2 linked regions of the Homo sapiens genome follow. The protein of the gene in region 2 binds, or shares a complex with, the protein of the main gene of each other region. Each region holds a gene or a part of one and is shown on either strand. Other genes may lie near its edges.

Evidence for each region.
Region 1: the proteins of AP1B1 (region 2) and ARF1 are in contact, whole or in part, in a cryo-EM structure (PDB 7R4H), measured with the Homo sapiens proteins. Residues at the interface, in NP_001118.3 of Homo sapiens: Asn23, Asp25, Pro52, Asp53, Val55, Asn56, Met58, Gln59, Met83, Ile85, Met86, Ala87, Val88, Asn89, Thr90, Val92, Lys93, Tyr121; in NP_001019397.1 of Homo sapiens: Glu17, Met18, Tyr35, Ile46, Thr48, Ile49, Gly50, Phe51, Asn52, Val53, Glu54, Thr64, Trp66, Lys73, Leu77, Arg79, His80, Tyr81, Gln83, Asn84.

The regions. Positions count from the first base shown.
Region 1 is NC_000001.11:228,085,498-228,089,408, forward strand, and holds part of ARF1 (ADP-ribosylation factor 1), read left to right. Parts: intron 1-3,911. UniProt on the Homo sapiens protein: Small GTPase involved in protein trafficking between different compartments. Modulates vesicle budding and uncoating within the Golgi complex. In its GTP-bound form, triggers the recruitment of coatomer proteins to the Golgi membrane.
Region 2 is NC_000022.11:29,353,971-29,357,881, reverse strand, and holds part of AP1B1 (AP-1 complex subunit beta-1), read left to right. Parts: intron 1-1,265; coding exon 1,266-1,456; intron 1,457-3,010; coding exon 3,011-3,232; intron 3,233-3,911. UniProt on the Homo sapiens protein: Subunit of clathrin-associated adaptor protein complex 1 that plays a role in protein sorting in the late-Golgi/trans-Golgi network (TGN) and/or endosomes.

The sequences.
Region 1 (3,911 bases), on a different chromosome or scaffold from region 2:
GGGGAGACAGTGAGGCTGGCTGATAAGCCATAAAGTCCTTGACTAATCCTGGTTTCCTGGTTCTCACACAGTGGTAACAAGGGCTTGCAGCCGGTTGTCAGCCAACAGACTGGGAAGGGTGGTGCTTCTTACAGGCCCTGATAACAGGAGAAGCCTAAATGACAAGAGAAGAGACAGGGAAAGCATAAAAGGCAGGCAGATTTTCACAGGCACAGCAATTGAAAATGATTCTGTTTAGAAGGCAGACATTCTCCCACACCCTTGAGGCCCAGGGCTCACTGCTGGTGTACAGCATGAAGTGGACAGGAGAGTTGATTCAGTCCATGAACATTTCAGGAAGTTAGAAGTCTATAGTTGTGGATTGCAAAATACATATCTGGCCTGCCTCCCATTTCCTGGCTAAAATACTTGGAATCTCCGAAGTGATGATGTCTTTTTGTACCCTAATGAGTTGACCAGTGATGGGCAGCCCCTACGAAACTTCAGGGTAGGGCTAGTCACAGGGCCAAGGCAGGATTAGAGGGTTTCAGCCCCACCCTCCAATTTTCCCAGAGTGGAGAGGGACTGAAGATTGAGCTGGTCACCAATAGCCAATAATTTAATCAATCACACCTATACCATGAAGTCACACTTTTGCCTTCAGTAGTTAACAGCATCTACAGCCCCGTGTTTCCACATTTGTACAAAGGAATGTTCAGACTGAACCACACTTAAGTACAATTTTGAAACAGCATGAGGCTGGGCGTAGTGCCTCACGCCTGTAATCCCAGCACTTTGGGAGGCTGAGGCGGGTGGATCATGAGGTCAGGAGATTGAGACCATCCTGGCGAACATGGTGATACCCCGACTCTACTAAAAATACAAAAAAATAGGCCAGGTGTGGTGGTGTGCACCTGTAGTCCCAGCTACCCGGGAGGCTGGGGCAGGAGAATGGCGTGAACCCGGGAGGTGGAGCTTGCAGGGAGCAGAGATCGCGCCACTGCACTCCAGCCTGGGCAACAGAGCGAGACTTTGTCTCAAAAAAAAAAAAAAGAAAAAAAAGAAACAGCATGAAATTCCTTGTTGATGGGAAATACCCGAAAGGCCTGCCTGGGTTTTCAGAGAGCTTCCAGAAAGCTGAATTCATGGAGGTTCCTGGAGAATGGCACAGCCAGGAGGGAAAGGTAGCGCCGTGTCTCTTCCCTCATACACCGCCCACTGCATCTCTCCATCTGTATCCTTTGTAACATCCTTTATGAAAAACCAGTAACCTTTAGTGTTTTTCTGAGTTCTGTGAGCCACTCTAGCAAATTAATTGAACCCAAGGGGAAGGAGTTATGGGAACCCTGATTTATAGATGGCTGTCCAGAAGCACAGGTAAAATAACCTGGAGTTTGTGATTGCCTCCAGGTAGACAGTGTCAGAATTGAACTGAATTAAACGACACCTAGCTGGTGTCTGCTGCAGAACGCAGAACTGGTTGCTTGCTTGGCATGTAGGGAGAAACCCCTGCTCATGTGGTGTGAGAAGCGACCTGTGTTATAAGAGTGTGTGAGAAACTGAGTTTGGGTTTTCCTATGTCCTCAAAATAGTATATTTTGAAAGCCTTCTAGGCAGAATGTATTAAAATAGTTTTTACTCCCTGAAGGGATGCCAGCAAGCTAGAAAGATTCATTTCCAAAGGGCTTCCAGTGGTAGCATGGCTAGACATGAGACATCTTTCCATTTGTGTCATACAGCAAGTTATTTTTGCAGTACCATATACGCTATGCGGGAAACTTTTAAGTATTTTATAGGTTTGATTTAGGTACAAATGGCCAAGAAGCTATCATCTATACTCATCCTGGGGATTGGGAACGGAGGCAGTTAGATGTGCCTGTGCTTTGTACCTTCTGTAGATGGGAATGCAGTTGCTCACTCACCAATCAAATTTATTGATTTATATTTAAAATACTATGAATACATCTTCTGGCAATTTTGGTGGTGACATTTTCCTTAAAATATTTGTACTAGCCAGGCACTGTGGCTCACACCTGTGTAGTGCAATCTACTTGGGAGGCTGAGGCAGGAGAGTGGATCACTTGAACCTAGGAGGTCAAGGTTGCAGTGAGCTGTGATCATAACCACTGCACTCCAGCTTGAGTAACAGAGCAGGACCCTTAGCTCTTAAAAAAATTTATACCTACTCATCAGCTGAGGACCTGGGGGCAGGTTTAGAAAACAGATTTTGAACACACATCCTTCCCTCCCTCTTGTGTCTGACATCACTGAGCTGCCACACTTTTGCCTTCAGTAGTTAACAGCATCTACAACCCCATTTTCCCACATTTTTATGGTCAAAAGAATGTTCAGACTGACCCACACATGAGTACAGTTTTTAAAAAGCATGCAATTCCTTGTTGATGCGATAGGTTTTTCGTGACGAACTTAATTTTTAGGGAAAGCACATCTGCAGATGTGTACAGTTGATCTTCATGAGCCCTATGGGCCTGATAAACATTCTTTTGCCATTGTTTTCTCCTCTCCTTGGTGGTGAGTCACTTGTGCAGTGCCCAGCGGAAGAGGGTGGGAGGCTGGGGAGGAAGGCCTGTTCTGGGCAAAGGAAGCCCTGCTTGATGAGCATGAGGCTCCACGGGGGCAGTGGCTGTGACGGTGAGTGCCACACAGAGCTGCCCACACTGGTGGAGGGAAGGCAGGGAGATACCAGGACCATCCGGAAGGGGCTGAGTGTCATTTGACAGGTGCCATGTGAGCAGAGATGTGAAGGAGTGGCCCGGGACAATCAGGGCAGAATCCCTGAGGTGAGTGCGCTGGCTGGCAGAGTTTGGAGACCTGTCAGGAGTAGGGTGCATACTGGGTGGGAAGCCTGCTGGGGTGTGCAGTGGCCCTCGGAGGGGGTCCGCGGTTCCCAGAAAAAGGAATTTGGTAATCTGTGGTGGCATTTTTGGGTGGCAGCACTGGCACCTTTGGCAGTGGCAAGAACACTTCCTGTCTGACCTTCATGTAGGGGAGGTCGTCTGATGTCCCAGACCTGTTATAAATATGAAAAAAAAATTTTTGTGCATAGTTTTAACAGGTGTTCTGAAGTTCCAGGAACAAAATCACCTTATAAATCAAAGATGACTGTGTATTGTTCTCTTCAGAATCACAGCAAGAATTCAGTTTCCAGAAGGAAAAGCTACAGTAGTTGCTTCATGGACATGGCTTGCCCTTGAGGTTGGTGGTGTCAGTGCATGAGCAGCCTGGTAAGGGTGGTTCTCTGGCCGCCACCCTTGGTCCTCTAGCGTGGTTGTGAAGTCACTTTCCTTTACTCCCCATTGCATCATAGTTGGGACAGAGCAGTGGTTCTCTGCCGTCTTGTGCGAGTGCTGGGATGCTGTCTCTACTTCCTTTTGGGTTGCCAGAGGCAGCATTTAGAGCACAGTGTGGGCATTATGTTGTGGACCAAGGCAGCCTATTGCAAGGACCTGATCGGGCGGCAGCCGTGGGGCAGCTCTGAGTAGAACATCGGGTCACCTGGCTGACTGGTGTGCTGAGAACACGCAGGAGGAGGCTGGAGACGGGGTTCTTGCCTGGGGAACAGGAGGGAGGCTACTCGCATCACAGCGGAGAATGCCTGTTGGGTTTGGGAGGGGGGTTTCGGCTGCAAAGCTGGCTGTCAAGGGGCAGGAATTGGGAGGAGGGTCTAAAGTCTTGAAGAGAAATGTGGGGTCGTTGTGTAGGGGCCACCATCACCTGGAGAGCAGGGCAGATGCCAGCGTGTGTGTGAGAACTAGGTCACTTGAAGGGAGGTCCCCAGAGTGTCCCCGGGGTGTGCCTTTCTCTCACCTAGGTCTGGAGTGCCTCCAGAAGCGAGGATTTCCTGCAAGGGCGGTGGCCTCCCAGGGTCTGTGGGGGGGCATCCCCGTCTCTTTACATGTCTGACTGACCAG
Region 2 (3,911 bases):
ACCCCATCTCTACTCAAAATACAAAAATTAGCCGGGTGTGGTGGCATGTGCCTGTAATCCCAGCTACTCAGGAGGCTGAAGCAGGAGAATCACTTGTACCCAGGAAGTCGGAGGTTGCAGTGAGCTAAGACTGCGTCACTGTACTCCAGCCTGGCGACAGAGCTAGACTCCGTCTCAAAAAAAAAAAAAAAAACAGCTGCCTGAGGCCGCGCGCAGTGGCTCATACAGGATTACATGCCTGTAATCCCAGCTATTTGGGAGGCTGAGGCGGGTGGATCACCTGAGGTCAGGAATTCAAGACCAGCCTGGCCAACATAGTGAAACCCTGTCTCTACTAAAAATATAAAAATTAGCTGGGCATGGTGGTGCGTGCCTGTAATCTCAGCTACCTGGGAGGCTGAGGCAGGAGGATTGCTTGAGCCCAGGAGGCAGAGGTTGCAGTAAGCCAAGATTGCACCACTACACTCCAGACTGGGCAACACAGTGAGACTCAATCTCAAAAACAACAAAAACAAGCTATGTGCAGTGGCTCACGCCTATAATCCTAGCACTTTGGGAGGTTGAGGTGGGAGGATCACCTGAGGTCAGGAGTCTGAGACTAGCCTGGCCAACATGGCGAAACCCCATCTCTACTAAAAATACAAAAATCAGCTGAGTGTGGTGGTGCATGCCTGTAATCAGTCCCAGCTACTCGGGAGGCTGAGGCATGAGAATCACTTGAACCCAAGAGGTGGAGGTTGCAGTGAGCTGAGATCACACCACTGCACTGCAACCTGGGCGACAGAGCACAACTCCATCTCAAAAAAAAAAAACAAAAAACAAAAAAAAACACCTTCCTAGTGGAAATGGATTGAGGGCCTGGAGCTTCACCTGGCAAGCCCCCATCCACTCCCAGTAGCCTCGAGGAGCTCTGCAGGAATCCCCTAGCTCTGAGAAGCACAGCTGACAAGCATTGAAGTGAGGTGCTGTTGCTGGTAGACAGGCGCTGCTGTGTTAGGAAGCTGAGAATGCTTTCTGTGGCTAAGCCCTTGGAGCTAGGTCTTTCTTGTTTTTCTAAATGGCAGGCACACTTGTTTTGTTCCAGTTTGCAGAGGAGTCAGCAGGGTGAGTGCTTGGAGTGGGTCTCGTTGCAGCTCCAGACCCTGCCCATTGGGTCATATTCCTTTCAGGATATTTGACCTCTGACCAGCCAGCATCATTAATGCACTGCCCCCTGGCCTGTGAGCAGCACCCCCAGCCTCTGCCCCTCCCACCCTCTCAACCAGGTGGTGGCCAATGCAGTGGCAGCGCTCTCAGAAATTGCCGAGTCTCACCCCAGCAGCAACCTGCTCGATCTGAACCCACAGTCCATCAACAAGCTGCTGACAGCCCTCAATGAGTGCACCGAGTGGGGCCAGATCTTCATCCTGGACTGCCTCGCCAACTATATGCCCAAGGACGACCGCGAGGCCCAGAGGTGAGCGGGCTGCCCGTTGCTTGCCAGCCCAGCTTGAGGACCCTGGTCCTCAGGGGCTCCAACCAGGCACTGGGCCTTGGGCCTTAGTGGGCCCCTTTCTAGTGCTTTGCCCCATAACCCACCCTCAGACACACCTAAAGGGAGGCCTGCCTGCTTCCCACCTCTCCAGAGCCAGGTAGACAGGAGAGTTGCCTTGGGCAGCTATGGGCATACGCATGGCCTGGCCTTGGAGCTGGCAGAAGCCCAGGGCACCTCTTTTGAGTTCAATAGGTGGGTAGCGCCAGAGCCACTGCTCATTGAATTCTCACTGGGTGTCTGGGGCTCTGCCGGGTGCTTTCCACACTTTAGAGTCTTTAATGCAACTTTTATCATCATCCCCCACTTTCCAGATGAGGGAGCTCCAGCTTAGAGAGGTGGAGGGAATAGTGCAGGTCCCCTGGCTGGGGCTCACCTGACTCATGGTCTTAACCAACAAGATACCCTCCAAGTCGGAGGAAGTGAGGAGTTGCCATCTATACAGTATGTACTACATGCCAGTACTGTGCTTGTTCTTTTTTTTTTTTTTTTTGGCAGGGTCTCTGTTCTGCAGGCTGGAGCTGCAGCCCCAACCTGCAGGGCTCAATCAATTCTCCCAGGTAGCTGGGACTACAGACATCTGCATGCCAACATGAGCAGCTAATTTTTATATTTTGTATAGAGACAGGTTTTCTCCATGTTGCCCAGACTGGTCTCAAACTCCTGGGATCAAGCAATCCACCCATCTCAGCCTCACCCAGCCTTGTTCTTTACATGCGTTGTGTCAGTTAAGCCCCTAGCAACCCTGTGAAGTAGGCATCATCATCTTGATTCTATAAATGAAGAAACTGAGGCTCAGAGTGATTTGAACCTGCTAGGGGTTATCAAGCAGCAGAACCAAGATTTAGATCTTTCTCCTACAAAAAACATGTTTGTTTGTTTGTTTGTTTATGACAGGGTCTCGCTCTGTTGCCCAGGCCAGAGTGCAGTGTCACAGTCTCAGCTCACTGCAGCCTCAAACTCCTGGGCTCAAAGCAGTCCTCCTGCGTCAGCCTCCCAAGTAGCTGGGACTACAGGCATGCACCACCATACTCAGCTAATGTGTAAAATTATTTTTAGTAGAGAAGGGTCTCATGATTTTGCCCAGGCTGAACATGCTATTTTTTTTTTTTTCGAGACAGGGTCTCACTCTGTTGCCCAGGCTGGAGTGCAATGGCGCGATCTCGGCTCACTGTAACCTCCACCTCCTGGGTTCAAGCGATTCTCATGTCTCAGCCTCCTGAGTACCTGGGACTACAGGTGCTTACCACCATGCCCAGCTAATTTTTATATTTTTTGGTAGAGACAAAGTTTTACCATGTTGGCCAGGCTTGTCTCAAACTCCTGACCTCAAGTGATCCACCCACCTCGGCCTCCCAAAGTGCTGGGATTACAGGCGTGAACTATCACGCCTGGCCTGGACATGCTATTTTGGTAACTAAAAACAGAATGTTTCCCCTTGTCTTTCCTGTTTGCCCCGTTGGAATGGACGGACCCCAGCATCTGTGAGCGGGTCACCCCCAGGCTCTCCCATGCCAACTCCGCTGTGGTGCTCTCTGCTGTGAAGGTGCTGATGAAGTTCATGGAGATGTTGTCTAAGGACTTGGACTACTACGGCACACTGCTCAAGAAGCTGGCCCCACCCCTGGTCACACTGCTGTCAGCCGAGCCAGAGCTGCAGTATGTGGCCCTGCGCAACATCAATCTCATCGTGCAGAAAAGGTACTGAGGTCACCACACGCACGTCCATGCGTACCCCTCGGGGAGCCTCTTCTGCTGGGAATGGGGGCTCTCAAAGGAAACTGACCTGTCACCATGCAGGAAGTCTCAAATAGCTTAACCCAGAATAGCTTAACCAAAGTGGCAGCTTTGCCCCCCTGAGGGATATTTGGTGGTGTCTGGAGATACTTTGGTTTTCACAGCTGAGGGGGGCATGCTACCGGCTTCTAGTGGGCAGAGGCTAGGAGTGCTGGTCAGCATCCTACAGTGCACAGAATAGCCCCTCACAGTAACTGTCCAGCCCGAAATGTCAGCAGTGCTGAGGTTGAGAAGCCCTGGCTTAACCTAACTAGGAAGCAGGCTATGTAAAGACTAGCTTGGTGATTAAACTAGATATTGTCTTCATAGTCCACGAGCTGTCCTGAAATGGGCTGTCAGATTTTGTGTATCTGTGTACATTTCTTCGGGGGACAGAGTCCGTAGCTCTAGTCAAACTCTCTGAGGTTGGAACCTTGAGGTCTGGGGGAGAGGTACATCGGACTCACTCCAAATGCTGTGCCGCCCACTTCCCTCCCATGAGAATGGCTGAGCAGTGAGCTGCTGCTCCCAGGGCACGTGGTATGGTAGTGGGGGGTAGGCGAGAGCAGAAAAACCATTGAGCAGTGCTGGATCGGAGGGGTTC